Linked DNA regions of Homo sapiens: region 2 is linked to region 1. Evidence: fine-mapped expression QTL. A gene starts in region 1. The other region holds a variant in brackets. All regions are shown on one strand. Distances are from middle to middle. Region 1 holds the start of B3GNT5 (UDP-GlcNAc:betaGal beta-1,3-N-acetylglucosaminyltransferase 5). Region 2 overlaps MCF2L2 (MCF.2 cell line derived transforming sequence-like 2).

Region 1 (2,791 bases):
TCGACTCGAATTCAGCCCTCCAGCCGGAGGCGGGTGGCCGCAAGCCTGGGGCCCCCGGCCGGCAACCGAATTGGTGGGCGCGGCGTTCGCCTCGCGGCTCCCGCGCACGGGCCTGTCCCGCCACCGAGGAGCCGGAGCTCCTCAGGGACGGGGACCCGCAGGCCCCGGGAAGCCGCCCCAACCGGAGCTGCCCGGCCCCCGAGCCTACCTGCCGCACCTGGGCGGCGGCCCGGCCTGGGTCCCAGCCGCTGGCCACCCGCGCGGGCAGGCCGGAGGGAACAAAGGCGTTCCGGGGAGGGGACGAGCCTCCTTCTCCGCCGCGCTTTCAGAGGGCGGGCTGCCGGGGCCCGCGGTGGGAGAGGCCTCCCCGGCTTCCCGACTTCCCGGCGCTGGGCCGTGCGCGGTCCGGGCCAGGGCGGCGGGCCCCGATCCGGTGTCCACGCCAGCCACGCGCCCCCGGCCCAAGCGCGCGTTCCCACCTGAAGTCCTGGCGCCACCCGCCGGGCGAGGGCCGGCGTGCCCTCACCTCCTCGCCACTCTTCTCCTCCAGAGACCTCGCTCGGCCCGGAGTGGGCAGACTCGGAGCCTCCCGCGCCGGAGACCGCGAGCCGCTCGGCCGAGGAGGCGCGGCGGGGCGGGGGCGGGGCGGAGGGGCCGGCCCGCAGCCCCCAATGCCGGGAGCCCGCGCTGGAGACCCAGGGAGCCCAGCTCGGGGCCGCGGCACGGAGAACGAACCATCCGTGGCCTGGAGACGTATCCCGCCGAGCGGCCAGAACTTTCCCCATTTAGCGATCCGGAAAGGAAGCCAACACTCCCACCCAGAGAGGCCTCGGCCGCGGAAAGATGCGGCCGCGGCACAGCCGTGTTTTCACCACGTAACTGACCACAGACTAACTCCGCGCGGAACCACCGGCCCAGGGCGCTCCGCCAAGAGGCGGACTGTGCTGGCCTCGCGGGCCCTACGCCCAGGGAACGCCGCGGTTCCTCCCACACGGGACACCGGTTCCGCAGCGCCGCGGATTAGGATGGTCTTTTACTTTCCGAGCGGGAGCTCTAACGCAGGCTCAGGCGGGTCTTGTTAAAAGGTTTCTGGTCACACCACTTATGCGTGGAGCTCTGGGGGCCTCAGTAACAAAGTAAGGAAACTTACAGCAAACTAGGGCTGCACTGCCGCTGTCCGTTTCTAAAATACGAGAAGAGGGGGAAACCCCGCCCCAGGCCAGCTTCCCAGTGACTTTACCTCCAAGTCCAGCTTCATTTCAAGGGCAGTTTAGAGCGAAACTCACGAAGTTCAAGCCCAGCTCTTTAAATGTCCAAATCGGAGGTCGGCTTTCCTTCCCGCATCGGAGCTAAAGTCGCTGGTCTCAAGAACAAAACTTGCGGGCTTTAAATCTTGGGCGAGGACTGGACGGGCAGCGCTGGACTGGGCTCGCTTCCCCGGCGGGATGCGGGCTGTATGCGGGCGGGATGGGGGCGGGCCCGGGCGGGGGCGCGAGGCTCCCAGCCGCGCGCCCCGCACTCTCGGCGTCACGGCCCGAGCCCGGCCCCGCCCGCCAGCCGCCACCCTCCCGGCGCGTAGGTGAAGGTGATGGGCCCCGCCCCAGTTTGTTCTTGTCTGTAGATGAGAATTCCAGGAAGTGTTTCCCTGCCGCTCGTCAGTTAATTGCGATCACTTACTCAAATGGCCAACTGGAAGCCAGAGTGCACATGAATGTCCTCTTTGAGCTATTTTCCTCCTTTAGAATACTTCATGCAGGTAACCAGACAATATCGAGAGATGCGGACTTCTACTCAACGAGAGAGATTATAAATGAATCCTGGATGCGCTTGATTTCTTGTTTCCCGCATGTTGTTAGACCTCTCCCTAAAGCCACAAAACATTTAACGGAGATAATATTTTGAGCGATTCTGTTATTGTACATATTTCAGAACATGACAGAAAAGCAAAAGATTAACCCAAATACTTTAGTAAAATAAAAGCTTTGAGTTTGTCGTAAAAGGAACAAGACAGGTAATGAGTTAAATGTATGATTGTCGAATCAGGGTTTAAAACAGTGGGGCCAGCAGACACGGTGGCTCACACCTGTAATCCCATCACTTTGGGAGGCTGAGCCGCAGGAGGATTGCTTGATCCCAGGAGTTAGAGACCAGCGTGGCCAACATAGCAAGACCCCATCTCTAAAAGAAAAAACACACACACAAAATGAAAACTGTTGTTCATTCAAACTAGATTTTTAGGAAGTTTTTAAATTGCTTTCCTTAAGCTGGTCAGCATCTTTTAAATCATGCAGTTCTTTTCATATGCTGCCTACACAGGGCATGGCTCAGCATCTCCCAGACTGTGGCACTGCATGTTCATCAGACCACAGACAGAAATATTTACATGTGTGATTTGCAAAGGAGTCATTGACAGTGACCCACAAATAAGCTGATTCATTGTTAATACAGCACTAATGACATACCTTCTCTAATAAAATGCTGACTGAAATCCCACATGCATTTCCCCCAGCCATCACATGTGTATGTTGTATATCTGTGCAAATATTCAATTACAATTATATTCCTTTCAGATCATTTGGAGCTAGGTCCATGTGTCAGTATACATATGTTCCACATACATGAGCACATAGAACTGTACCCACGAGAAATACAAACTGACCAAAACAGTGGTAGACACACATACAAATCACATATTCACATCATACTAGATACAGATAAACACACCAGATAGATAAATGGTTTCAAAAGTATGTCTGGAGATTGGAAATACGATGCAAGTTTTTTGGTGGTA
Region 2 (2,791 bases), 42 kb after region 1:
ACCGTGTGACATGGCCACACTTCTTTGTTACTGGTGGAAAACAGTTGGAAGTATATTCGTTTCCTAGGGCTGATGTCGCAAGGAACCACAAAGTACGTGACTTAAAACAACAGAAATTTATTCCCTCACAGTTTTGACGGCTAGACGTCCAAAGGCAAGGTGAGAGCAGGCCCACGTTCCCTCTGAGGGCTCTCAGGAAGAATCCTTCCTTACCTCGTCTGAGCTTCTGGTGACTGCCGGCAATTCTTGGAGTTCCTTGGCTGACAGCTGTGCCACTCCAATTTCTGCCTCTGCCTTTGCATGGCTGTTCCCTCAGCGTGCGTCTCCATTTCTTTGTTTTCTTTTTTTATAAGGATACCAGTCATTGGATTTGGACCCATCCTAACCCAGGGCAACCCCATCTTAACCAATTGTATCTGCAAAGACCCTCTTTCCGAATAAGATCATATTTTGAGGGTCTCATAGACATGAGTTTTTGGGGGAACACTATTCAACCCAGTACAGGGGCGTCGCTGAATGAACTCCTTGGATAAATCAATATTCCCTCACAGTGATGAGTATTTTGTTTCCTGTCCCCTACTCCCAAGCACCACTAAATGCCAATAAATAAATAAATACTAGGGAATGCCAATAAATAAATAAATACTGGTGAACACGTATCTGAAAGAGGTTGTGCAACGTGGTCTCCGACCTTGAGATCAACTACAGTCTAGTTGGAAAGAAAAGGTACACGTGACGGAAAAGGTCATTCTTGCTCCTGCTCAGGGAATGTCCCTGCAGCTTCCTGTTGGAGGCGGAGCAGCTCCACACAGCACAGTGAACAGTGTGTGTGCCTGCCCTTGGTCAGCACCGTGTAGGGCATGTGCTCACCCGCTGGAGATCGGACCTTGGGCGTGGAGATGGGCAATACCGTCATATGTGTGGTCCTGAGAACATTTGTGCAACATGACCCAGAGGATATGTGCCCATATGTTTCTGCCAGACTTGAAAGACCCAGCGACTCCCCCCGAGTCACTTCCAGTAATAATGGGCTTACTGGAAAGCTGACCTGCAGCTTCTCAAGAAGTCACGATGGCAAAGCCAAGTTCGCGGAGATGGGAACTGAGCAAACCCAGGATCCACAGCACCTCTGGGGCCTGGGCCTGGGGAGGGAGCCGGGGTTCTTACCTGTGTGACCCGCCTGTATATGTCAAGTGCACCCACATGCCTGCTCGCCCCCCCTCTTACCACCTACTGACTGTTTTTTTCCCTTCCGTCAGTTTCTTCCTCTTCCTCATAATTTCTAATGACTCACCTTCTTCATAGTTCTGTTTCCTTCTCGTTTATTCCACTGCCTGCTTTCCCCTAAAGCATCTCACAGCCCCGTCTCCTGCTGGTCA[C/T]CACTTCCTCCTGTTTTCTTCAGTTCAGGGAGAGATCACATTGCCAACCCCCAACCCTGGCACATTGTTTTTATGCTGGGGGCCCTATGGTCAGCTGCTGGTACCTCTCTGGATTCACATCCTCTGATTACTTGCCTATGAAGGTGCAGCAGCATGGCTGTGGATGGGGTGATGAGGAAAGTTCAGAGGTAATAAAGCACAAACCTTGCTGCCTGAGGCTGCCTCTTCAGCATTTCTGGTTGGGGCTGTTTCCTCTACAATAGCCTTGTGGATGCCTTAACTCACGTCACCCCATCTTCACAAGTCATTAGAGAGTGTACACCTCGACTTATTCCCCCTTCCCCTATCATCCTAGCCTCTTCTAGAATTACTTTGACAGCTGAGCCTCCACACTGACCAAATGTGTTCTTACAAGCAGCTTTACCTAAAACATGTTCCTCTTTCTATCATAGGGCGTGGTTGAGGATGTTGCTCAGTGACAACATATCACTGGGAGAAATGTTTCTTATGTCTTAGTAGGAATAGCTGTGCTTTTCCTGAACAACCGGTTTGTGTATGTCTTCAGACATAATAAATCGTACCACTCACCATGTTTCCCTCTGTATTGCTATTAGAAAGTCAGAGCCAAGTTTACATCAAGTTTAAATGGCTTTATTATATGCATTTTACATATAACCTCTTCATCTTTTCTTTTATCTTCTACACCTTCTGGAACAGTTCATCTGATTTATTGTCTTTATATTTAGGGATGGTGATCTCCCTATGTTGCCCAGGCTGGCCTCAAACTCCTGGACTCAAGTGATCCTCCTGCCTCAGCCTCCCAAGTAGTTGCGACTACAGGCAGGCGCCAAGCTCCCAACTTCTTTATTTTTTCTTCACCTTAATTCCCTCGGTTATTTTCTATCTGTCTATACTGTATATATTTCTGTAAGATGCGTCGAATGTTTAAAATGAGGTAGAGAGTGAATACATTGTAAGATAGAAACTACAAGTTTGAATATCCCTTAGCCAAAATGCTTGAGGCCAAAAGTGTTTTGGAGTTTTTTTTTTTTTAGGGGAGGATTGGAGTATTTGCATACGTACTGAGTTATGTTGCAGATGGAACCCAAGTGTAAACACGAAATTCATTTATGTTTCATGACACCTTATACACATAGACTGAAGGTAATTTTACATATTTTAAATAATTTAGTGCATGAAGGCCGGGAGCAGTGGCTTATGCCTGTAATCCCAGCACTTTGGGAGGCTGAGGTGGGCAGATCACCAGAGGTCAGGAGTTCGAGACCAGCCTGGCCAACATGCTGAAACCCTGGCTCTACTAAAAATACAAAAATTAGCCGGGCATGGTAATGCACGCCTGTAATCCAAGCTACTCGGGAGGATGAGGCAGGAGAGTCCCTTGAACTCAGGAG

What was found. PIP is the estimated chance that this variant, and not a neighbour inherited with it, causes the effect.
Region 2: its variant is fine-mapped to the expression of B3GNT5 in whole blood (TOPMed, PIP above 0.99).

What each region holds. Positions count from the first base shown.
Region 1 is chr3:183,251,922-183,254,712 of GRCh38, reverse strand. B3GNT5 (UDP-GlcNAc:betaGal beta-1,3-N-acetylglucosaminyltransferase 5) reads right to left here and starts at 1,460. Exons shown (of 2, transcript NM_032047.5): 1 at 1,241-1,460. All of the region lies in intron 15 of MCF2L2 (MCF.2 cell line derived transforming sequence-like 2), which reads left to right. LOC124906310 (a long non-coding RNA gene) reads right to left here. Exons shown (of 3, transcript XR_007096189.1): 3 at 2,158-2,178.
Region 2 is chr3:183,209,577-183,212,367 of GRCh38, reverse strand. The region is part of intron 22 of MCF2L2 (MCF.2 cell line derived transforming sequence-like 2); the gene reads left to right. Among named protein-coding and RNA genes, the nearest start is that of B3GNT5, 42 kb to the left of the region's middle. The variant C/T (reference allele first, on the strand shown) is at 1,380.